Homo sapiens: one gene and its partners. The protein of the gene in region 1 purifies or fractionates together with the protein of each later gene. This does not show direct contact. Each region holds a gene or a part of one and is shown in the gene's direction. Other genes may lie near its edges. The genes, in order: NCBP3, KRT6C, ACIN1, FAM120A, THOC7, ODF2 and METAP1.

Region 1 (3,500 bases):
AAGTGTATCACAGTGAGACCTTCTTTTCGGGGAGTTAGAGCAATTTTGAGATTGGTGGGGAAAAGCCATTAACACTTTTGTTGATAATCTGAATCTATTGGCCAGGTGTGGTGGCTCATGCCTGTAATCCCAGCACTTTGGGAGGCCAAGGCAGGTGGATCACTTGAGGTCAGGAGTTTGAGACCAACCTGGCCAACATGGTGAAACCCCATCTCTACTAAAACTACAAAAATCAGCTGGGAGTGATGGCTGGCGCCTGTAATCTCAGCTACTCGGGAGGCTGAGGCGTGAGAATCGCTTGAACCTGGGAGGCAGAGGTTGCCGTGATCCGAGATTGCACCACTGCACTCCAGCCTGGGCGACAGAGCGAGACTCTGTCTTAAAAAAAAAAATTCTGAATCTATTGATAATCTGAATATCTGATATATGTAAACCACTCAGTAACATCCTGTTGTCAGAGAAAGCTAAACTAATCCTGCCCTGAGTTTTAAGCCTGCGCTTACAGTTGGACTTGTGATTTGATTTGATCTTTGTGTTTTTTTGGGGTATTTTGCTCCCTAGAACTCACCCCGAATTATTGTATATAGTAATCTGCCGCAGTTTTCTAAAGCAATTTATAAATAAAAGGAAAAATTACTACTTTTTTAGTGAGTCTATGTTCTTATTTATTATTCTACTATAATATAAATCCATGAATGCAGAAGGCTTCCCTCTGTGTTATTTGCAAATTTGGGTGTTCATAAAGGGTTTAGTAGGCAGCCTTCTGAATGCATGTTAAAGGCCTGTGCTGTATTGTATGAGCTTCTCTAGCCTTGTTTGGTTGATAAAAGCAAAAGCTCTGTAAATATATTGAATGAATGAAAGAATAGCTGCTATTTGTTGTGAACTTGCTTTTTTACTAGACTCGTTAAGCACATTATATATTTCTTTCTTTTTTGTTGCTCACAACAACTGTATGAGGAATTTATTTTTATCCCTATTTTATAAAGAGGAAGCAGGCTCAAAGAAGTTTAATAAATTGCCCAGGGTCATGTAGCTAGTAAAGGTGGAGTCAGGATTCACACCCAGTTTCTTTGACTCTAGAGCCTTGCCCTTAACTCCTTTGCTCTGTTGCTGTGTAATGTAGGATGTGGTGCTATCGACTGATATTGCGTCCCTCCTCAGTCAGTCCTAATGGGCCCAGCAGTGTGGATGCAGAGCTGAACTCTGGAAGCTGCTTCACTCTTTATCCTGCATGACCAGTTCAAGTCAGAAACACGCCCTTGCTTCCCTCATGGGCGGGGTTTCTGTTTGAGGAGAAGTCCTGTGAAGGCCAGGTGTGGCTTGACCTTCATGTGCCTGCACAGCCGGGCGCAAGCATACCTGTGAGTCTCTCTCACAACTCTACCGCGAGGGCGTCATAGCTTTATCACACCTGTCGACCTCTGGTCCCGAGAGCATTCCTTGAGGCGGCTTGCCTCTGATACGGCTCATGCCTTTCATTCTGTGCATTTGCCCTTCCTTGTCCCATGCTTTATCTCTGGTCAGGTGTCACTTCCCCCGTGGAGCATCTCTGCTCACCCACTTGAAGTGTTTTCTCACATCTGTTGGAGCTCTTTAGGGCGCAAAAGCCTCGTAGAATCTAGTCTCAGTTCCTTTGTGACTGAGGACAAGTTCTTGAGCCTTGTTAGTTTCAGTCTCCTTGTCTGTAAAATGGAAATATGATACTTACCTTAATAGGATCACTTTTGGGGTTAACTTTTAATTTAAAAAAATTTTTTTTTTTAACGTACAACTCCAGTCTCACGGTTCTAAAGATATTCCTAAAAAAGGCAGTAAGGTCGGCCGTGGGATGTCAGCTGGGGAAGCTTGCTTATTTCAGTCGATTCTTTGTCCAGGAGGCAGCATGGCCTAGGATAGTGTTCCTGAGCCCTGGGGAACCCTGCTGCCCATCTCAGACCACTTTATATTAGTTGGAGTTGGATAGGTCCCAGGGATAGTTACTGGTTTTCTTTTCTTTTTTTTTTTTTTTTTGAGACAGAGGCTTGCTCTGTCACCCAGGCTGGAGTGCAGTGGCGCAATCTCGGCTCACTGCAACCTCCACTTCCTGGGTTCAAGCGATTCTCCTGCCCCAGCCTCCCGAGTAGCTGGGACTACAGGTGCATGCCACCACACCCAGCTAATTTTTTGTATTTTTTAGTAGAGACAGGGTTTCAAGCTCCTGACCTCCTGACCTCGTGATCCACCCACCTTGGCCACTGCCCAGCATTTTTTTTTTCCTCTCTTTCTGTAGCCCAGGCTGGAGTGCAGTGGCGCGATCTCGGCTCACTGCAACCTCTGCCGCCCGGGTTCAAGCGATTCTCCTGCTTCAGCCTCCTGAGTAGCTAGGATTACAGGCACCTGCCACCGTGCCCAGCTAATTTTTGTAGTTTTAGTAGAGATGGGGTTTCACCATCTTGGCCAGGCTGGTCTTGAACTCCTGACCTTGTGATCCACCCGCCTCGGCCTCCCAAAGTGCTGGGATTACAGGTGTGAGCCACTGCGCCCGGCTGATAGTTATTCTTTTTATATCTTCTCAGGTAATTTTTATTTATTTATTTTTATTTTTTATTTTTTTTTTGAGAAGGAGTCTTGCTCTGTCACCCAGGCTGGAGTGCAGTGGCACGATCTCAGCTGACTGCAACCTCTGCCTCCCAGATTCAAGTGATTCCCCTGCCTCAGCCTCCCGAGTAGCTGGGACTACAGACGCACACCACCATGCCCAACTAATTTTTTGTATTTAATAGAGACGAGTTTTCACCATGTTGACCAGGGTGGTCTCGATCTCCTGACCTTGTGATCCACCCGCCTCGGCCTCCCAAAGCGCTGGCGTTGTAGGTGTGAGCCATTGCGCCAGGCCATCTTTTCAGGTACTTTTAATGTGCAGACAGGATTGAGGACCATTGGTTTCATGGTTATGAGCATGAGCTCTGAAGCCTAGTTACCTGGATTCAAATCTTAATCTGTTACTTTCTAGCTCTATGGCCTCGGGCAAGTTATTTAGCCTCTAAAAATCTCAGTTTCCTTATCTGGAAAGGCAGATGACAGGAATTCTTTTTTTTTTTTTTTTTTTTGAGAGACGGAGTCTCACTCTGTTGCCTAGGCTGGAGTGCAGTGGCGCAATCTTGGCTCACTATAACCTCCGCCTCCTGGGTTCAAATGATTCTCCTGCCTCAGCTTCCTGAGTAGCTGGGATTACAGGCACCTGCCACCACGGCCAGCCAATTTTTATATTTTTAGTAGAGACGGGGTTTCACCATGTTAGCCAGGCTGGTCTTGAACTCCTGACCTTGTGATCCACCCGCCTCAGCCTCCCAAAGTGCTGGGATTACAGGCGTGAGCCACTGCGCCCGGCCAATGACAGGAATTCTTATAGGGCTGCTGGGAGACTCTAACAAAATGTTACAGTCCATAGAGTGGCGCTTGGCACATGGCAGGTGCCCAGTTAATGTGGCTTATTATCATCATCTGGTATTCTCCAT
Region 2 (4,237 bases), on another chromosome or scaffold:
TTTAAATAGGCATTCTACTACATCCACATCTGGAAAGTCTAAGTATATGAGAGTCTTATTAAGCTTCAAGTTTTAATGATCAGTTTGCAGGAAATATAGAGGACACAGTAGCATCTTAAATGAAACACTGTGAGTAAGCAATGAGGAAATCCCAAAGACTGAAACACTACTCAGGACAATTAACCTGGTCTTATCAACAAAAGAATTGTAAACAATAAGGAAATAAATGAAAAAGGACATTGGAGAATTGAATAGACACATTGATGTTAATAAATACACAAATTGGCTGGGAGCAGTGGCTCATGCCTGTAATCCCAGCACTTTTGGAGGCTGAGCCAGGTGGATCACCTGAGGTCAGGAGTTCGAGACCAGCCTGGCCAACATGGCGAAACACCATCTCTACTAAAAATACAAAAAATTAGCCGTGCTTGATGGTGGCCACCTGTAATCTCAAACTACTCAGGAGGCTGAGGTGAGAGAATCTCTTGAACCTGGGAGGCGGAGGTTGCAGTGAACCTAGATCGCACCACTGGACTCCAGCCTGGGTGACAGAGAGAGACTCTATCTCAAAAAAAAAAGAAAAAAAATTACCCTTCCCCACTGTCCCCTCTACACCCCCTCTCTATGCTCTTTTCTTCCTAGTAAAGCATTACTTTCTTTCTAGCTCAGTGATGCCACTGGATGTGATGTCTTCTATCTCCTTTTGTGTTGTCATCTTTATTAGAGTCAACTCCTTGAGGGCGAAGACTTAATAAATACATACATTTTTAAAATACAAAATAATATTTCAGTTATATTTCTAAAAGGTCTATCATTTAAAGATTAATATTGAATTAATATTGAATTAAATCCCAAATATTTTTGGGATTTAAAAAAATTTAACATTGATAAGGGAACCGGGTGGAAATATACAAGAAATAAGACTGGCCATAAGGTAATCATCATGGAAACAGGTAATAGGTATATACAGGCCCATTGTGTTCTGCTCCTCTACATGTTTGAAATTGCACACAGAAGGAAAAATAATTACAGGAAAAATGTTAATATTTCTGTTAAGGCATTTGCAATACAGTGCTTGTGATCTCCAACATCTCTGCTGGAAGAAAGTCAGGCTGGAAAGAGGAAAGCACTCACAGCATGTTGATAAACAGCCTAGCATGCAGAACCTTTGCTGAAGACAGTGACTAACTTCAACTTCATGAACTGAGAATGCTCTTACTGTGCTGAAATCTCGAGTCAAAGCTGGAGGCAGGAACATTTTCCCTGACTAAAGGAAGTGAAAAATGCCATCTCAGCATTTCATAACTTTTCTGATCCAGGTGTGATCTCACTATTTGTAAAGCCCAGCCCTTCCCAACCTGCAAGCTCACCTTCCAGGACTGGGCCCAGCCCATGCTCTCTCATAATATATAAGCTACTGCTGGAGCCCGATTCCTTGTCCTGCTTCTCCTGCCTCTCGCCTCCAGCCTCCAACGCTCGCCACAGCCCTCTCATCTCCTGGAACCATGGCCAGCACATCCACCACCATCAGGAGCCACAGCAGCAGCCGCCGGGGTTTCAGTGCCAACTCAGCCAGGCTCCCTGGGGTCAGCCGCTCTGGCTTCAGCAGCATCTCCGTGTCCCGCTCCAGGGGCAGTGGTGGCCTGGGTGGTGCATGTGGAGGAGCTGGCTTTGGCAGCCGCAGTCTGTATGGCCTGGGGGGCTCCAAGAGGATCTCCATTGGAGGGGGCAGCTGTGCCATCAGTGGCGGCTATGGCAGCAGAGCCGGAGGCAGCTATGGCTTTGGTGGCGCCGGGAGTGGATTTGGTTTCGGTGGTGGAGCCGGCATTGGCTTTGGTCTGGGTGGTGGAGCCGGCCTTGCTGGTGGCTTTGGGGGCCCTGGCTTCCCTGTGTGCCCCCCTGGAGGCATCCAAGAGGTCACCGTCAACCAGAGTCTCCTGACTCCCCTCAACCTGCAAATTGACCCCGCCATCCAGCGGGTGCGGGCCGAGGAGCGTGAGCAGATCAAGACCCTCAACAACAAGTTTGCCTCCTTCATCGACAAGGTGAGCCAGTGCCATGCCCTCCATCGGGCACTTCAGGGTCCCCAGACCAGAAGAGCAACACCTTCCTGCTAGGGAGACCTAGGAGGGAGGGAGAAGGGGATTCAGCCCAGCTCTGCAGAGAGTGCAGGTGGCTCTCGGTGCACAGGAGGCAGCACAGATGGGCATCACTCCCCCATGGGATCTCTGGAGTGGCCCTCACTCCTGCCTAGGGAGAGCCGTAACTTTTCATAACCCTGAAGCACAGATGAGGCCATCAGAGAGTGGAGTAGGTTAATTCTCCCCTCTGAAGTGTTTAAGAGATTACAAAGCAAATGCCAGGAGTATATGGGCTGGTAAATTACACTCTGGGGTCTGGGTAAGAGGAAAAAGATTTAGAAAGAAAAGGAAAAGATAATCTGGCTGGATTAAGAAAAAAAGGGACATAGAAACAACTGTAAAACATGGATAAATGCTAATTAATTTTAAAAACAGAGAATGACCATAACATCAGAATATTTGAGAGGAGACACTAAATGGGAAAGTAGACTGAAATGTAATCATGAGTCAACATATAATATCTCTCCTAACTAAGATCCTATCAGTAAAAAAACTGTGTACAATATATCAGGTAATTAGTATTTTTAAACTAGATTTGTGATTGTGCCTGGAAAAAGAAGAGAAGAAATGTTGAAACTCACTGATGATCAATAGCTTACAGCGTGAGAACACCTCAATGGTCCATGGGACAATTTCTCTAGTGAGACTGGTGGGGTGCAAAGGAGAAGGGGTTGGGGGAGCAGAGCTCAGCCTGAGCCTCTCCACATGCACTGTAGTAGCCCAGCACCATGGGGACCTCCAAGACCTGCCAGGAAACTGGATACCAGACACTTTTTCTTCCTTCCTTTGCCTGGAAAATGACCATCTTGCTTCCCTTCCAGGTGCGGTTCCTAGAGCAGCAGAACAAGGTTCTGGACACCAAGTGGACCCTGCTGCAGGAGCAGGGCACCAAGACTGTGAGGCAGAACCTGGAGCCGTTGTTCGAGCAGTACATCAACAACCTCAGGAGGCAGCTGGACAGCATCGTCGGGGAACGGGGCCGCCTGGACTCGGAGCTGAGAAACATGCAGGACCTGGTGGAGGACCTCAAGAACAAGTGAGGACTCCATTTCCTGCAGCACACACTTCAAGACTATTGGGTGACCAGGGCCAGATGTGTGTAGGATTCCTAACAACCCATGTCCATGGAAATGAAAAGCACAAATTAGTCCCTAGGAGCAAACCTGCAAGAACCACAGATGGTTATGGGAGGATGGGGGGATTAAAGAAGTGGCAAATTTAGTAGTAGCAAAACTCATCTCTTTGGCTCTCTGTGGCAGGAAAGCTCAATTAGAATATATTCCATTCAGGAAATTGTTGAATCCCAAGCTGCTTTTCTGTTTCATCCTACCCACTGGCTCATATGTGTCCTATGCCTTTCTTCCTGTAGATATGAGGATGAAATCAACAAGCGCACAGCAGCAGAGAATGAATTTGTGACTCTGAAGAAGGTGAGCAGATGAAGCCGGGGGTTCAAATTCATTTAGAAGGAGAGAAGTGGCTCTGTGTCCTCGCTCCCCTGGGAGAGAATTGGCAGGAGGACTAGAAGATGGGTAGATTGGAAAGGTGAGCTCAGGTAACTCCAGGTTGTTGGCTCTTTCCCCAGGATGTGGATGCTGCCTACATGAACAAGGTTGAACTGCAAGCCAAGGCAGACACTCTCACAGATGAGATCAACTTCCTGAGAGCCTTGTATGATGCAGTAAGCATCTCCACCATCCTTCTGTTTACTCTGATGGGGTCTGCAAAGGGGAGAAGATGTATAGGGTTGGGTATCTCTGTAAATGTCAGATGTGAAGTTGATCTTATGACCTTCTGTTCTGCAGGAGCTGTCCCAGATGCAGACCCACATCTCAGACACATCCGTGGTGCTATCCATGGACAACAACCGCAACCTGGACCTGGACAGCATCATCGCTGAGGTCAAGGCCCAATACGAGGAGATTGCTCAGAGGAGCCGGGCTGAGGCTGAGTCCTGGTACCAGACCAAGGTGAGCAGGGAGTGGGCAGCTGCTGAGGAATCCTTGTGTCCATCCTGGAATACCAGAGGACTGCAGACTTCACTGGGGACATCCCCTGACAGGAAGCTGGGGTCCTCTCACAGGACATGCACTCTG
Region 3 (3,500 bases), on another chromosome or scaffold:
CACCATAATCAGTGTTTTTAGGATGTATGGAGGTTTCCAGCTCTTCTGATTAATACAGAATTCCTTCATGGACTACACTTGATTTTAGTTAAAAGGCTGAGCAGCGATAGACTCTTCATGGAAATAGATTTTTTAGGAGACATTTAATGGTGGGAAAGAAATTTTCCAAAAGGCTAGAGAAAATAGAGAGCCTTTGAGTCTAGTTTTAAGGTCCTGTTTTACTCAGTCCCTGTTTTTCTTGATCCTAGTCTTAGACCCAGAAAGACATTTCTAGAAATCTTTTAGTAAGAAAATACTGGCCAATACTTTGGAATTATTAAGTTCCTTAGGGACCTCTTTTCTCCTGAAATACGAGAGTAGTAGACCCTCAGCTGATCCACTTTGCTCCCTGCGCCCTTTCCCCCTTGATTTTAAAGCCGAGAGGAAAGAGAAAGCTCTTCTAAAATTGTCGGTATTTCTTCTCACATAAAACAAAAAAAAATTTATTGAATTCCTACTGCATACATATCTCTGTGAGAGTATATTGGGAGTTAGCACAGCATAAAGTCTGTTAGGAAGAGAGAACAATTACACATAAATCGAACAACAGAAGATAGTATGTGACAATGATACAGACATAGGGAACCAAAAGAGTGGAAGAGCTCTGAGGACTACAGTGATTAGAGAAAGCCTCATAAGGAGATACAGGATTTGAGCTGAGCCTTAGAAATGGTTTGGCAGAGAGGATACAAGAAGATATTTTTAGGAAGGAACAAAGTCAGAGAGATAGGAATGAAAATGGTATTTTTAAAGGAGAGGTAGTAGACTAATCTAGCCAGAGTAGAGTATTTCACATTCAAGAATAGTCAGCAAAACAATTTAAAAGGTAGATGAGGGTGATACACAGAGGGCTTTAAATGCCAGGCCAGTAAGTATGAGGGTTTTTTTTTTAGTTCTATAGGTAATGGGGGAACCATTGAAAATTCTTAATAGGACCATGATTTGATAAGGACCTCTCTTTAAAAAGAGAGGCTGTCAGTTCTTAATATAATTCGAAATGAAAATGAGAAATGATTTCTGAAATAGATTTCAAAAGCAAAGATTTAGAGTAAGGGTAGCCAATCTTTTCAGTGCTTTATGTCATCAGTAAGACCCTGCCCATGGCTAATGATTGATGGAGGAAAAAAAAAACCCCAGACGTTAAAAAAAAAAAAAGGTGAAAAATAAATTGGAAAATATGAATGTGGTAAATTGTAGAGTACTGCTCATAATTGCCGTAAATGCTCTTCAGTGTCCTTTATGCCATAAACTTTTCTACCTCTGATCTTGGCTTAGATAAGAATCCCATTATAGATGTTGTACAAAATTTAGTTAAGGTCCTGAATGGAGTGGCCATTTGGAATTCTATCAGTGCTTAGTTGAATCAGCATTAACCCTAGTGTTTGTCCAGAAATCAGATTCTTCCAGGTATAGAATCTCAGTCTGCCATATGCCAGTATGCCATTGCAATGGCAGCTTATTTGTTGGCTTTGAATGTTTTGGGGTTCTCTCTTGAATAACAATTTTTGATTAAGTTTCCTACTAACATTTTTCTAAACGCTACTGGCACCTGAGGGAGATTTTTTATTTGTTTTAATATTACTATGTTTAAGAATATGGATTCCTGGCCCCTACCCAAAGAATCTCAAGGAATGGGAGTCCTGGGGCTCTACATTTTTTAAAAAGTCCCTGAGTGGTTCTGTTGACCAATTCATTTTATGAATGACTAACTGAAGGAAGAGTTTTTCAGTGTTATAATTTATCAAGATCTTTGGTTTATATTCCAGCATCCTCCTGTTTATATGCTATTGGCAAAATTCCAAATAGGAAGGAAGAATTGGTTTGTCCAGGTGTGGTGTCTCACACCTGTAATCCTAGCACTATGGGAGGCTGAGGTGGGAGGATCTCCCAGGAGATTGGCCTGAGCAACATAGTGAGTCCTATCTGTACAAAAAAATAGAAAACATTAGCTGACTGTGATGGCACATGCCTGTAGTCCCAGCTACTCGGGAGGCTGAGGTGGGAAGATTGCTTGGGCCCTAGCAGTCAAGGTGGCAGACAACAGAGTGAAACCATGTCTCAAAGAAATAATTGGTTTATAAAATCCTGTCTGACTTTCCCTCTTATGTCTCCATCACTTTCTTCAGATATTTCTAAGGTGTTAGGACTCATTATCCACCTACCATAGTCATAAATTGTCTGAATTTCCTTCTATATCATGACTGTGTGTACAGAAATTCTTACCGTCCTTAATTTTTTCAAAAAGAGCTCAAACTAAGAAAATACATTTTTAAATGCATATTCAGAATATTGATTCTTTAACAAAGGTGATTTTAGCCAGCCTTTGGCTTATAGAGTATGCCCCTCATTCCGTTTTCTCCATATTAAAACCTGGATGCGGAAATTCTAGAGAAATGCTAGGTAACTTACTTACAGGTCTAACATGAGTCAGATTTAGGTTTGGCATTGTTTCCAGGTCTGTATTCTCTTCATTCCTGCTTCTTATTCACACCTAAGGTTACCTTTTAGCCACAGGCTTTTCTTCGATCTCTGGCTTCCTTACTTTGGTCCCACAAATCCTACCCAGGAATTTGTTTTCTAGGATGAAGAACTATTTCCTCTATAACCCTTAAACATTCTGCACTTTAATATATCCTGCATTGTCTAGCAACTGCCTTTTCCTTTCTGTGAAGCCTTCTGGCTTTGGACTCTTGGAAATCTAATATTTACCCTGACTTGTTTTTCGAATCCTGAAATGTATTTATTAGCCTGTTATCAGTATCAGCTCCACCCTTAGCTAAAGCGCTCACTGTCTACACGTGTTACTAACATCTGGCCTAAGACATTCATTGTGGCCATGTTCTTATAATAGAAGATATCACCTTTTTCAGAAGTTTGTCTGCATCACATCAGCTCTTTCCAAGGAACTAGAGATTCCTCATCTCTTTATATTTTGCATTGCTGACTAATTTCTTGTTTCATGTCTGAGGCGCCTCCAGTTTCTGCTTTTATTGCAAAACAGTGATGACCAGAACTTTCTGAACAGCCCTGTTCATTTCTCCAGATCTCTTTGATGACTTACTACAAGTTCTTCCAGAGGAGTAATCATCCAGAAATCCTATCACTGCAGTTTTACAGTATCAAAAATAACATTATAATTCAATAAATAGCATATAATTCACAGTAGGTAGATAAAGAGGCTGTTTTGCTTGTACATACTAATTTTAAAATTGCAACTCAGTTATTTGACTTTGTTGTTGTTGTTCTTGTTGTTGTTGTTTTTTGAGATGGAGTCTCGCTCTGTCGCCCAGGCTGGAGTGCAGTGGCGCGATCTCTGCTCACTGCAAGCTCTGCCTTCCAGGTTCACGCCGTTCTCCTGCCTCAGCATCCCAAGTAGCTGGGACTGCAGGCACCCGCCCCCACACCCGACTAATTTTTTTTTTTGTATTTTTAGTAGAGACGGGGTTTCACCATGGTCTTAA
Region 4 (3,500 bases), on another chromosome or scaffold:
AAATGTGTTAAATCACATAAGTATTTCTGTTCAAATGAGGCCAGTGTTAGGTCAATATAAGGTAATGGTAGGACTACTTAGTGGTGCTGTTTTGTTGAGGAATATTCTGTTAACTTTGGAGAGTTTTACTAAGACTTTGAAAGAATTTAATACTGTAGTACTCTTATTCCATAGAAATTACTCTTTTCAATTTAAAGATTGAGAACCTAGATCCCCGAGGAATTCAGCTATCAGCTCTCTTCATGAGTGGAGTAGACATGGCCTTGTTTGCAAATGATGCATGCGGACAGCCAATCCCCTGGGAACACTGTTGTCCTTGGATGTATTTTGATGGGAAGCTCTTCCAATCCAAACTCCTCAAAGCCAGCCGGGAAAAGACCCCACTCATTGACCTCTGTGATGGTCAGGTATGCTGCGGGGCCGGGTGGCTGCCTTTAACTGCAATGAAATAAAGCTCACTGGTTAAATCTGTCATCTTTTATACCATATTTATCATCCTGTGTTTCAAGATTCTGTTTTAGGTTGGGCCTGGTACTGAGTGTCACTAAATATCACTTCAGTACCCAGGATGAGCCAAGCTCCTGATATAACATTGTTTCTCATTATTTGTGGTAGTAATGTTCTAAAATTCACCTTGAACGCCAAATTAGTGAATACTGACCATTGCTCCTAGGGGCAATACAAGGTGCTGGGTTCCTTCAAGGCTCTGGTCACATATTTTTGTTAACCAATCAGTATATAATCTTATTTCATGTGCATTTTCGTTAAAGACACCTTATATAATATGGATTGTTGATTCATTATTATTGAACTCACAGCCAGTAGCTTCTGTAACACGTATATTCTCTGTAAGGCACATCACAGCCTCCTTATGCATTTAGGAACACCAGACAGCACTTCAGCACTACACTTGGAGACCATTTTATTTGTTTGTTTGTTTTGGTTTTTTTTTTTTTTTTTTTGAGATGGAGTTTCGCTCTTGTCGCCCAGGCTGGAGTGCAGTGGTGCGGTCTCAGCTCACTGTAACCTCCACCTCCCAGGTTCAAGTGATTCTCCTGCTTTAGCCTCCCTAGTAGCTGGAATTACAGGTGCCTGCCACCATGCCCAGCTAATTTTTGTATTTTTAGTAGAGACGGTGTTTTGCTATGTTGGTCAGGCTGGTCTTGAACTCCTGACCTCAAGCAATCCACCCACCTTGGCCTCCCAAAGTGCTGGGATTACAGGCGTGAGCTGTTGCACCCAGCCAGGGACCATTTTAAACAGTGAAATTACCAACAAAAAAGGACAAAAATGTGAAACACGTGGCACTTAATAAACTGTGAAAAGGATTCTTGTTTTCAGTATGAGCTGAAACAAGAAGGCAAGCGTTGTCTTGTTTGACCTCAGCTGGGGTCAGTGCATCAGGCAACAAAAATCTTTGCCGTGTTCTGCACAAGTCTGCAGACGACCAGAAAACTGCCATAAGTATTGATTTTTGTGGTTACAAATAAACGTTAGCAAGTAGGAGAATTTGCAGACATAGAATTCATGAATAAAGGGAACCAACTGTATAGTTGATAGATCTTATTTCTTTAGTGCTCATTTAAATTCAATTAAAACCCCCTGTGGATGGCATTTTCACATGCTGGTCCTTGTCTTCCAGGCTGATCAGGCTGCCAAGGTAGAGAAGATGCGCCAGAGCGTCCTCGAGGGGCTCAGCTTCTCCAGGCAGAGCCACACGCTCCCTTTCCCGCCGCCACCTGCCCTGCCCTTCTACCCTGCCTCTGCGTACCCCCGGCACTTTGGGCCTGTCCCACCCTCTCAGGGCAGGGGCAGAGGCTTTGCAGGTGAGTTGATTGGGACGTATTCCTGTGGGTAACAGATGCCAGATTCCTGTAAAGAAAGTGCAGCCCTTATAGGCAAGCCCATCTGCTGTGTTGACCTTGTCACTGTTGGTCTTGGAGATCCTGCAGCAGCAGTTCTTCAAGTCCGTGAGGAGCAAGTTTAATCCTGGAGATAGGGGAGAGGGACCTGCTGATGCAGATGCAAAAGCTGCACCGTAAAATCTGTCAATCAAGCTGAAAACTCTGCTCACATTTTAAGATATATTTGTTTCTCATGTGTAAGGGAAAATAAACCCACCCAGGTCAGAGAGAGCCATCTTCCAGGACTCATCTCCCAGGGCCCTTCCTGAGCCCCATGCTAGTGCCCTGTTGAATGACCCACTGCAGGGAGGGTGGCCTTACAATACTGGTCCCCAGGGACCATGGGCACAGGACAGTGAGGTGACAAGAGGGGCCAGGAGACCCCTCCATGGCAGCTGGAGGAGGCAGGGGCCACTCTGCCTGAATACCCAGCAGGGCCCTGAGTCCTGTCCCTTACACTTCTCCCCTCTCTCTCTACCCCGGGTCCCACAGGCGTCTGTGGCTTTGGAGGCCCCTATGGGGAAACGGTAGCAACAGGCCCTTACCGTGCCTTCCGTGTGGCGGCAGCATCGGGACACTGCGGAGCCTTCTCAGGCAGTGACAGCAGCAGGACTAGCAAGTCCCAGGGCGGTAATTATACCCACCCCTTCCCAGAGCTTCTGCCTGCCAGCACTTCCTTCGCTCCATCGTCTGGCGCCTTCCTTCCTCTACTGTCCTCATGAGCCCCTCCTCCAGCAGAACGGCCTTTCTTCTGGGTCCCCGCTCTGACCCTCATTGACCACTCCTCCTGAGACTCTCTGCTCTCAGGTCTCAGCAGCGGCTCTGCTGTGGCCAGTCTCTCCTTTCAGGGTAGACCACTGAGTGTCCACCTAGAACAGAACCTTTCTGTGCACCTGGGTAACCTGACCATCGCCTCGTGTTCATAGGATGAGCTGCTAATAGTGGCGTTTCTTTCCCAAGCAGCCATCTTTTGGTAAAGATTATCATGCTTGTATAGAAAATGCTAATGGTCACAGAATTCCTGACATAAAAAGTCTGTCACAGTTTGTTTCGCAGAAACATTTTTAAACAAAGATCTAATGTTGGGCATATAAACAAGGCAGTTTACTGTAGATTCCCAGTGCTTCTCTTTGCATTTGTATTAGGCTTGCAAAAGAGAAAAGGGTCTTAACATTTAGCATAGGAAGCAATGTCTTGTGATGGTGCTGTAATTGGAAGTCAGTGACCTGTATCTTTGTCCTAATCCCACATTTTGGGACTGCAGATCTAAATCTGCCCATCAAGTCACATAACAGGATTAACTGTTCAGATGTGATTTTGGAGTTGCATTGAGGATGGGCAAGCCTTTCTCTCTTGATCAACAATGTTTTTCCAACTCAGTTACATGGGATAGTTAGGGAGGCCAGCAAGGGAACTGTGCGGAAAGGTGACTTGCAGATTTGGCGACGGGTCAGCCCCTCTGTCTGCAGGTCACCTCTCCTTTCCCTGGTGCAGCTGCATGCCTCTCTGCCTCCTCTGTCTGCCCACCAGCCTCCTGCAGTGTGCTACTCTGCTCTGTGACTGCTCCTCATGCAGCTCGCAGCCATGTTTCCTCTC
Region 5 (3,500 bases), on another chromosome or scaffold:
AGTTTACCACCCAGTTAACCACTGTTACTACTTCATAAAAAAAGTACTACATGTCAGTAAATTCAAGAAGAAATGCACAATATGAAAAATGAAAACCTTCCCCTCTTTACCTTCCGTAATAATTCCTCTCCCAGAATGATTTTTAATGCCTCTAAAAGGTAAAAGTATCTTCTCTGGAGCCTGACTCCTGAGTTTGAGTTCCATTTCTATTCCTTACTTCCTGTGACATTTAATTTTTGGCAAGATGCTTTTTCATTGGTAAAATAGGGATAAGAATATCTATAATGAGGCCGGGCAAGGTGGCTCACGCCTGTAATCCCAGCACTTGGGGAGGCCGAGGCGGGTAGGTCACGAGGTCAGGCGTTCAAGACCATCCTGGCTAACACGGTGAAACCCCGTCTCTACTAAAAATACAAAAGAATTAGCTGGGCGTGGTAGCGGGCGCCTGTAGTCCCAGCTACTTGGGAGGCTGAGGCAGTAGAGTGGCATGAACCTGGGAGGCGGAGCTTGCAGTGAGCCGAGATAGCGCCACGCACTCCAGCCTGGGCAACAGTGCAAGACTCTGTCTAAAAAAAAAAAAAATCTATAATGCTGTTGTGTAGATTAAGTGTGTTTATATGTGAAAAGCATCTAAAGCAGTCCTTAGCATATTTAAGTGTTACGTATCTGCTGGCTAGTATACCAGTGGGTATATATGCTTGAAAATTTTATACAGTCATTTACACACTGGTCTGTATTCAACTTCTGTGTACCCATAAAATTTTTTTTAAGTGATATAGTAGGTGCGTATATTTATGGGGTACATGAGATATTTTGATACATGCATACAATGCAAAATAATCACAGCAGGGTAGATAGGATATCCATTGTCTTCAAGCATTTATCATTTGTTATAAACATTCTAGTTATGCTCTTTTAGTTGGTATAAAATGTGCAATAAATTATTGTTGACTATAATCATCCTATTGTGCTATCAAATACTAGATCCTATTCACTCTATGTTTTTGTACTAATTAAGCATCCCCGCCCCTCCCCTGCCACCACACACCCCACAGCTCTTCCCAGCCTCTCGTAACCATCTCTATTTTCTACCTCCATGAGTTCAGTTGTTTCAATTTTTAGCTTATCATGGAGCTCTTTTGAATATAAATCTACCTTATTCTTTTATATCAGTGTGTATAGTCTATTAATTTTTTAGACAGATCCTCTATTGGCATTTAGTTTGTTTTCAGTTTTTTACTCTTCCAAACAGTGTTACAATGGAGATATTTGCATAGATATATTCGCGTACTTGTGGGAATAATTTCTAAAAGATAAGTCAAAAGGTATATGTGTCTTTAATTTTGGTATATCTTGCTGTAATGCCTTAGTAGCTAGCTGTTTTCCCCACTATAATCCTGTCTGAAATTGTTATCCCTTCCTGTGGCTTTCAGTTTGGTACCTACCAAATTTTTTGCCAAACTGCATTTAGAAAGGAAATGCTAATCCTCACTGGTAGATCACAGGATTACTAGTTCACAAAGGCAGGTGAGATTGCAGCCTTCCCTCAAAGGGAACCACATTTGACCTGCAATTTAGCCTTAGCAAGGAGTTACATAACAATGATGCTATTGCCTCTGGTTGTCAAGCCTTGACCTGTCTCTGAAGTTGTTTTGTAATCAAGGTTTTAATGGCAAATATAGGGAAAGAACAATTATGAATTTTGAAAACGTTAGTCTGGGTTTATGAGAAACTCCCTTTTATGCTAAAATGAGAGCACAGCTAAAATGGCTGTGTCATCTGACCAGAGGCCTAGAAATCTAGAGTTGCTCTAGTAACTGTAAAGGAGTCATTTCTTCCTGCCTCTATGTTTATGAAACATAGAGTTTTAAGATCTAAGGACTTTTTGAGGCTTATTTGGTGTCTTGAATAATTTTATATTTCTTCTGGCTATATGTTGGCATATATGTATCCCATTTTGCAAGTAAATATTTACATTTCAGCATAAATGTGTCATTACTGATTTTAAACTGATTTTGAAAGATATTTTGTATGTGCAATTATGGTATAACGAAATCCAGTAGGAAGTCATAAGTTCTAGAATTGTGATAATAGTCTACTGTTAAACCAATCCTGTTTTTTTATGTTTTCAGTGGTTAACATTTAGGCATATTGGATATGAGGCATTTTGATGAGCAAATATGTATCTCATGCCCCTGCCTCATAGACAGTATACTCTAGACAATGTGTGGTCATATTACTCACTAATTAATACGTGAAGTTAATTGCTGCCTCCTTTTCTTTCTTTTTTTTTTTTTTGAGACGGAGTCTCGCTCTGTCGCCCAGGCTGGAGTGCAGTGGCGGGATCTCGGCTCACTGCAAGCTCCGCCTCCCGGGTTCACGCCATTCTCCTGCCTCAGCCTCCCAAGTAGCTGGGACTACAGGCGCCCGCCACTACGCCCGGCTAATTTTTTGTATTTTTAGTAGAGACGGGGTTTCAGCGTTTTAGCCGGGATGGTCTCGATCTCCTGACCTCGTGATCCGCCCGCCTCGGCCTCACAAAGTGCTGGGATTACAGGCGTGAGCCACCGCGCCCGGCCCTCCTTTTCTTGACTCAGATTCACACTCCACAGTCTTTCCAGGAGCTAGATGGATGGTATTATCCAGCCATTGTCCTACAAGCCTAAAGCCAGGTGGAAAACCACCATCCTCACAGCAGGTGTCAAGTATTTTGGTTTAGAAACTCTTTCCAGATGATGTTCATCCTCATAGTAAAGAAAGTAATTATGACAAGGAGTGATGTTGATAACATAAAAAAAATAACAAAAAATCTGCTAAGCCATCTTTACTGTTTTTACAGGATAGACCAAAGCCCAGCAGAATTACTAATATAAGCATTCAAACTGCTTACAGAGGGTTTCAAGCATGATAATTTGTGAAGTCAACATGTATAGTAAACAAAACATATTTTAAGTGTGTTCATTATGGAGCTAATTGATAAGATGTCATTAAAAATAATAATGCTCATGGCATTTGTGTTAGGAACTATCAGCAGCAGTCCATCTTTAAATTTAAAAAGAACAGAGGCTATTCTCAAACTGAGAGCTTACCTTTTTGTTTTATTCTGTTTCTGTTGGAGCTGTGCTCTGTACTTTATACATGTTATTTCAATAATTCTTGTCCACAGAGTTTTCTAGGCAGCAACTCTCTGTGCACAATTTCAGCTAGAAACGCCATGACCTTCCCAGTAAATTTGAGACAGAAGCAAATTTGTAAGGAATCCTAACTGGGCAAAACTTGATATGCATAAATGCCTAATATGTATCTACATAGATATATCTATAGATAAATCTTCAACATTTACTCTGACTTTTATAGGATGATACAAGTTGTGGATTAAATTTTTTTTTTTTTTTTTTGAGACGGAGTCTCGCTTTGTCACCCAGCCTGGAGTGCAGTGGCGCGACCTTGGCTCACTGCAAGCTCCACCTCCCGGGTTCACGCCATTCTCCTGCCTCAGC
Region 6 (3,500 bases), on another chromosome or scaffold:
GGTCGCGCCACCAATATCAGCTACACAGAAGGCTGAGGCAAGAGAATTGCTTAAGCCCATGAGGCGGAGGTTGCAGGGAGCCAAGATCGCGCCCCTGCACTGCAGCCTGGGCAACAAAGCGAGTCTCCATCTCAAAAAAAAAACAAAAAAAACGGAAAAGAAAAACGAAAAGAGGACTGGCCGGGCCTGGTGTCTCACGCCTGTAATCCCAGCACTTTGGGAGGCTAAGGCAGGCGGTTCACCTGAGCTCAGGAGTTGGAGACCAGCTTGGACAATGTGACGAAACCGTATCTCTACCAAAAATACAAAAAATTAGCCCAGTGTGGTGGTGTGCACTTGTGGTCCCAGCTACTTGGGAGGCTGAGGTGTAAGGATGGGTTGAGCCTGGGAGGCAGAGGTTGCAGTGAACCAAAGTTGTGCTACTGCACTCCAGGCTGCTTGACAGAGTGAGACCCCATCTCAAAAAAAAAAAAAATGGAAAAGTGCAGGGATGTACACCCATCAGAAGTGTATTGCTCCATGAATTTTCACAAGCTGAAGGTACCTGTGTAACGATCACCCAGCATCCTAGAAGCTGCCCCTGGCTTTTGTCTATGTCACTCCCTCCCCATCACAAGGAGTAAGTAGTCACACTTTCCCATATATATATATATATATATATTTGTCATTTTAAAAAATATATAGTCATGTGGCCGGGCGTGGTGGCTCACGCCTGTAATCCCAACACTTTGGGAGGCCGAGGCGGGCGGATCACAAGGTCAGGAGATCGAGACCATCCTGGCTAACACAGTGAAACTCCGTCTCTACTAAAAGTACAAAAAATTAGCCGGGCATGGTGGCGGGCACCTGTAGTCTCAGCTACTCGGGAGGCTGAGGCAGGAGAATGGCGTGAACCTGGGAGGCGGAGCTTGCAGTGAGCCGAGATTGCACCACTGCACTCCAGCCTGGGTGACAGAGCGAGACTCCATCTCAATTAAAAAAAAAAAAAAAAAAAAAAAAAAAAAAAAAAATATATATATATATATATATATATATATATATATATATATATAGTCATATATCAATTAACAATGGGGATATATTCTGAGAAACATGTTGTTAGGCACTTTCATCATTGTGCAAACATCATGGAGTGTACTTACACAAACCGAGATTGGTAAAGCCTGCTACACACCTGGGCTGTATGGTATAGCCTATTGCTCCTAGGCTACAGACCTCTACAGCATGATGCCGTACAGAATACTGTAGGCAACTAACACAATGGTAAGTATTTGCATATTGAAACATAGTAAATATAGAAAAGGTACGGTAAAAATACGGTGTTTTGGGACCACTGTCATATATGCAGTCCATTGCTGACTGAAATGTTACGTGGCACATGACTGTTTATACATTTTCCTATTTTTGTCATTTTAAGTATTAAAAGTAACTTCTTTTCTTCTAAAAGTAATATACATACCTGGATGTGGTGGCTCATACCTGAAATCCCAGCACTTTGGGAGGCCAAGACGGGCTTATCACCTGAGGTCAGGAGTTCGAGACCAGCCTGGCCAACATGGTGAAACCCCACCTCTACTAAAAATACAAAAATCAGCTGGGCATGGTGGTAGGTGCCTGTTATCCCAGCTAGTCGGGAGGCTGAGGCAGGAGAATTGCTTGAACCTGGGAGGCGGAGGTTGCAGTGAGCCGAGATGGCACTACTGCACTCCAGCCTAGGCGATGGAGTGAGACCCTGTCTCAAAAAAAAAAAAAAAAAAGCAAAGTGTTTACAGCTTTGCATAAAGTTTCCTGAAGCATATATGCATTTTAAAATATTTAAAAAAATATTTAAAAAGCTGAGACTACAGGCACCTGCTACCACGCCCGGCTAATTTTTTTGTATTTTTAGTAGACACGGGGTTTCAGTGTCTCGATCTCCTGACCTCGTGATCCGCCCGCCTTGGCCTCCCAAAGTGCTGGGATTACAGGCATGAGCCACCGCTCCTGGCCCTAAAATATTTTTTATACTGACGTATTTAAAAAGTATTGTATTTTTTTAATACAATACTTTCCAGGTATTGTACCATGTGCATTTATAATATTTTTCTACATCATCAAAATAACTGATTACTCCTAAGAGCATTTCTTAATATCATACAATATCTGGTCCTTTTTCCAATTTACCCACTTGTTTCTACAATACCTTTTCAGCAGATTCATCTACCTTTGTAACTAATCCACTATCAGCTATTCATATTCATTTAAAAGACTTTTGACATATTTCATTTCTACCCTAGGTATAAAAAAATGTACTGCCCTAAACTTTTGCCAACTTTGGGTATTATTAATGTTTTTGCTGATTTGTTATATTATTTCTTTATGAGTATTGTTATTTTTAGAGACAGGGTTTCGCTCTGTCACCCAGGCTGGCATGCAGTGGTGCTATCATAGCTCACTGCAGCCTTGAACTCCTGGACTCAAGGAATCCCCTGCCTCAGCCTCCTGATTAGTTGAGATCACAGGCATGTGCCACTACACCCACCTGATTTTTTTTTTTAGAAGGAGTTTCGTTCTGTTGCCCAGGCTGGAGTGCAATGGCGCAATCTTGGCTCACTGCAACCTCTACCTCCCGGGTTCAAGCGATCCTCCAGCCTTAGCCTCCTGAATAGCTGAGATTACAGGCATGCACCACCATGTCCAGCTAAGTTTGTGTTTTTAGTAGAGACGGGGTTTCACCGTGTTGGTCAGGCTGGTCTCAAACTCCTGACCTCTGGTCATCCACCCGCCTCAGCCTCCCAAAGCGCTGGGATTGCAGATGTGAGCCACCATGCCCAGCGCTAGCTAATTCTTTTACTTTTATAGAGACAAGGTCTCGCTATGTTGCTGAGGCTGGTTTTGGCTTCCCGCCTCGGCCTCCCAATATACTGGTTTTACAGGGTATCCAGCCTATGTTCTTTATTTTAAACTTAACATTGTAGCCCAAGCTTTTAATTTTGATGTTGGGAATTCTCCAAAACCATCATTTAAACATGGATAGGTAATGTTCCATCACAAGGGTTCAGAGTATGTTCTTCCTGGGGTCCCCGAGTTAGCTGTTACAGCTTTTCCCGTCTAATCAGTAAATAAGCCTCCAGTGGTGGAACTCGTGGTCAAGGTTCTGCCTTCTGAGTTCATGTGTTTCTCCCTCCTCTACATCAGAATCCACCTCATTGCCTGGAGATCACGCCACCATCTTCAGAAAAGCTGGTCTCAGTGATGCGGTTAAGTGACCTCTCTACAGAAGATGATGACTCAGGTCACTGTAAAATGAACCGTTATGATAAGAAGATTGATAGTCTAATGAATGCGGTTGGTTGTCTGAAGTCTGAGGTGAGGGAGGTAGGGGGCTGGGATAGCTACTACCCTGAGGATGTGCAGGAGCACCCAGGTGGATTTCCTGCCTGGTCCCTCAGCCTGCGTCTGCAGGCCTTCAGGCCTCCTCTGCAGGGTTGCCCCGGGCTTCAGTTGCCTGCCCCGGGAGG
Region 7 (3,500 bases), on another chromosome or scaffold:
CCTGGCTTAGATGGCATTTTAATATTGATGGAATTAGACTCTTTGTTAATAAGATATCTTAAAGGAACTACCTATCAAATGAGGAAGCATGAGCCCAAGTGTTAGAGGCTGCAGATAATTGACTGATTGTGATGCTAGCTGTGAATGATAGCCGAAATTTAACTATGACACTATTTTTATTAGAATTGCTACTGCTTTAGTTAGGGTATCTGTTCATAAAGTTCCATAGGTTTTGAGGCCAACCCTGTTTTTCAAATATAAAGCCTGTTATTTTTATTATATGTAGAATGTGTGAGGTTTTTCAGGAATGTATGTGTTGTGCTAGAACCAAAATATCTATATTGTGATGTTACAGGTTGATTGAAATATGTGGTTTAAAAATACTCAATGTGCTCTCTAGATACATTATAATGGTATAATAGTATATAATATATAGTATAATAGTAATCTATATTCTTAAACATGGGGACAAAGAGAAGAATGAATATTCACAAATAAGAGAAAAGCAAATGAGTTTTAAAAAAACAGGTGTAGAGCAGTGTAAATTTTTCTGTTATTCCCTAGCAGGAGTAAGGAACTTGTAAAAGATAAGTGAAAATGGTATTTTGTAGCAATGTAGCAAAGTTTTCAATTTAATGTTACTAACTCTGGTAATTTATTTTGCATGATTGTGTCCCACATACATTTTTCTTTTGCCACAAGTGATACAATTACTATAAGAGTATAAAAACCCACTATCTGGCTTATGTTACATGGCCATATTCCTGCTCTCCACAGTGAGTTCAGTTACATCTCAGGGAGCTTCTGTTGGGCAATAACTATCTATCCATTGGTGTCTAATTTGAGAATGCAGAAGTTGTCTTTTTCATTAAGTTGCTAGATGCTGTCATGTTGGAAAAACACTTGAATTTTGAAATGAAAATAAGTATGGTCTTTATATTTGCACATTCTCTTGCAGTGGATATCACTCTTTATCGCAATGGTTATCATGGGGACCTGAATGAGACATTTTTTGTTGGAGAAGTGGATGATGGAGCACGGAAACTTGTTCAGACCACATATGAGTGCCTGATGCAAGCCATTGATGCAGGTCAGCCTCAGTGTTGAGCACCTATTGGCAGTCCTGTGTGTTGATGGGCCAAGAATGACTGGGCGCTGCAGTTCTGTGCATTCCTTGTACCTTCCAGGTTGCCCCTGTTCTACCTGAGTTAGCTTTGGTTGTTAGCAGTAATGGGTAAAAGGATGATCTGGGAATCTCTTGGTGGTGATAGACCAGATGATTGGTTAGCATCCTTTGTTTCTTCTGTGATTTATCTTCCTTTTCTTTGCCTGATAAATGAAGAGGACTGTGCAGATGGTTTTTTAGTGCAACTTTTATTCTATTTTTAAAATTCTTTCCAGTACATAAATATTATGTTCTCCTCATAAAAAATTAAAAGTGAAGATTATGAGTGAAAAATGTGTGATCCTCCTTTACACTTGCCTCCCCTCTTATCTCTCTCTTCTCTCTAGAGATATCCCATTACCGTTTAGGTTTTTTCTCTCTCCTGTGCATTAATGCACACACGTATGTGTATGTGTTAAATTAAGTTAAATGGAATCATAATATTTTTAATGTGTAACTGGGCTGTTTTTTCAACTATCATAGAGATCTTTTCAAGTTAGCATATATACCTACAGACATAGATTTACCTCATTCTTTTAATGGCTATGTATTATATTCTATAGTATTACAATTTGTGTAACTATTCTGTTGGATTTTGGTGCTTTCCAGATTTCTTACTATTGTAGTAATGGGTAGGGGTGTATTTCTGGAGGATTTTTCTCAGGCTGTCTGTCTTTGTACATATGAACAACTTATCGAGGCTTTTTTGTTTAATCAGTATCTTATGGGGATAAGAGAAGGAAAGGGGCTGGGCATGGTGGCTCACTCCTGTAATCCCAGCACCTTGGGAGGCTGAGGTTGGCAGATCACTTGAGGTCAAGAGTTCGAGACCAGCCCGGCCAACATGGTGAAACCCTGTCTCTAATAAAAATACAAAAATTAGCCAGGTGTGGTGGCGGGCGCCTGTAATCCCAGCTACTCGGGAGGCTGAGGCAGGAGAGTTGCTGGAACCTGGGAAGTGGATTGTGCCACCGCATTCCAGCTTGGGCAACAGAGCGAGACTCCATTTCAAAAAAAGAAGAAAAGAAAAAAAAGAAAGGAAAGTTCTTAACAGCATCTTGTTGGAGTTGTTAACAAACTGTTAATAAATGGGCAAACAGCCTTCTGGTTAAATCCTTACCATATCAACTTTATTACCAGTGTGCTACCTGCAATCCTCCCCAGTCTCTCCAAATCTTGATGTCATCAACAGAATAGTGAACAGGACAGAGTTCTTAGACAAACATACAGTTATCTCTAATAATGTTGATCCAGTATTTTTATTGTTTTTAGTGCGTTCTTTAATGTGTATGGGAGATGAAATTTTTACTCAAGTTGGAGGAATGGAAATGAAGGAATATGATATTTTTGTGTATCAGGTGAAATTTTGAAAACTTATTACTCATTGTTGATTATTTTAAAACATTAATACAGGAGGTGGAATTGAAGAAATTTAATGTTTAATTTGTCATTTGTGAAAGCTTAAGTTTGAAATAATTTTTAGAGTTTCTGCCAGATAATATAGTCAATATTTCTATTCTTTTTGCTTCTCTGTGAATCAACTGAAGAAACAAAAAAAAAAAAAAAAAAAAAAGAAAAAGAAAAAACCAGATAGTTAGAATGCTGTTTTATATGACGTATGACTGGAACTTGCCAATAGTTTTCATAACAGTAGCCAGGAAGGAACGAAAGTGGCTTGATCTTTTTTGGAAAGTGCTTTGAATTCCTTTGTATATATCATTTTTGCCCCTCATTTTGCACCTCCCTTACTCCCCCAGGTAGAGGGTTTGAAAAGCTGTTGAAATTAGGCTTCTTAAGTAGGGTTTCTTAGTCTATGCACTTAGTGGCTTTTGGGCCTGATAATTTTTTGTTGTAGAGACCTGTTCTATACACATAAGATGTTCCACAAGCATTCCTGGTCTCTACCCAGTAAATGCCAGTTACACCACCACCCTGTGTTTGACAACCAGAAATATTAATATCTCTAGATACTACCCTTGGGGCCGCAGTTGGAGCAGTTTGAAAATTAGGGAAGACTTCCTCTGTCACTCTTTCTATGCAACATGGATTACAATATTGTTCCCCCTCCCACCCCAGGCTGATAGGAAGGCCTGGATAGGAATGAAAGAAAGTAATTATGAAAGTCAGCATGATTTTTCAAAACCAGAAACCTCCTTCCTTCTCCCCCCAAAATCAAGCTGCAAAATACAGTTAAGAGCAAGTAAAAATGTTAATTAAACTGATTCCTTGAGCTATTTACCCTGAAATGGATGGGAAAGATACATTGTATCTGAACCTCAGTCTGGGAATCAGATAGGCTGAGTAGGAGAGTAGAGAGAGTTAAGGATCCCCAGAG

The links.
Region 2: the proteins of NCBP3 (region 1) and KRT6C purify together in Homo sapiens (pull-down; one large-scale study listed by IntAct). This does not show direct contact.
Region 3: the proteins of NCBP3 (region 1) and ACIN1 purify together in Homo sapiens (co-immunoprecipitation; 2 studies listed by IntAct, with this or other methods). This does not show direct contact.
Region 4: the proteins of NCBP3 (region 1) and FAM120A purify together in Homo sapiens (co-immunoprecipitation; one large-scale study listed by IntAct). This does not show direct contact.
Region 5: the proteins of NCBP3 (region 1) and THOC7 purify together in Homo sapiens (co-immunoprecipitation; 3 studies listed by BioGRID and IntAct, with this or other methods). This does not show direct contact.
Region 6: the proteins of NCBP3 (region 1) and ODF2 purify together in Homo sapiens (co-immunoprecipitation; one large-scale study listed by IntAct). This does not show direct contact.
Region 7: the proteins of NCBP3 (region 1) and METAP1 purify together in Homo sapiens (pull-down; one large-scale study listed by IntAct). This does not show direct contact.

What each region holds. Positions count from the first base shown.
Region 1 is NC_000017.11:3,836,247-3,839,746, reverse strand, and holds part of NCBP3 (nuclear cap-binding protein subunit 3), read left to right. Parts: intron 1-3,500. UniProt on the Homo sapiens protein: Associates with NCBP1/CBP80 to form an alternative cap-binding complex (CBC) which plays a key role in mRNA export. NCBP3 serves as adapter protein linking the capped RNAs (m7GpppG-capped RNA) to NCBP1/CBP80.
Region 2 is NC_000012.12:52,471,006-52,475,242, reverse strand, and holds the start of KRT6C (keratin, type II cytoskeletal 6C), read left to right. Parts: upstream 1-1,437; 5' UTR 1,438-1,505; coding exon 1,506-2,045; intron 2,046-2,962; coding exon 2,963-3,177; intron 3,178-3,510; coding exon 3,511-3,571; intron 3,572-3,726; coding exon 3,727-3,822; intron 3,823-3,946; coding exon 3,947-4,111; intron 4,112-4,237.
Region 3 is NC_000014.9:23,085,137-23,088,636, reverse strand, and holds part of ACIN1 (apoptotic chromatin condensation inducer in the nucleus), read left to right. Parts: intron 1-3,500.
Region 4 is NC_000009.12:93,556,185-93,559,684, forward strand, and holds part of FAM120A (constitutive coactivator of PPAR-gamma-like protein 1), read left to right. Parts: exon of another isoform or gene 1-174; intron 175-197; coding exon 198-407; intron 408-1,642; coding exon 1,643-1,826; intron 1,827-2,396; coding exon 2,397-2,534; intron 2,535-3,500. UniProt on the Homo sapiens protein: Component of the oxidative stress-induced survival signaling. May regulate the activation of SRC family protein kinases. May act as a scaffolding protein enabling SRC family protein kinases to phosphorylate and activate PI3-kinase.
Region 5 is NC_000003.12:63,853,806-63,857,305, reverse strand, and holds part of THOC7 (THO complex subunit 7), read left to right. Parts: intron 1-3,500. UniProt on the Homo sapiens protein: Component of the THO subcomplex of the TREX complex which is thought to couple mRNA transcription, processing and nuclear export, and which specifically associates with spliced mRNA and not with unspliced pre-mRNA.
Region 6 is NC_000009.12:128,466,006-128,469,505, forward strand, and holds part of ODF2 (outer dense fiber protein 2), read left to right. Parts: intron 1-2,919; exon of another isoform or gene 2,920-3,177; coding exon 3,178-3,348; intron 3,349-3,500. UniProt on the Homo sapiens protein: Seems to be a major component of sperm tail outer dense fibers (ODF).
Region 7 is NC_000004.12:99,044,221-99,047,720, forward strand, and holds part of METAP1 (methionine aminopeptidase 1), read left to right. Parts: intron 1-958; coding exon 959-1,090; intron 1,091-3,500. UniProt on the Homo sapiens protein: Cotranslationally removes the N-terminal methionine from nascent proteins. The N-terminal methionine is often cleaved when the second residue in the primary sequence is small and uncharged (Met-Ala-, Cys, Gly, Pro, Ser, Thr, or Val).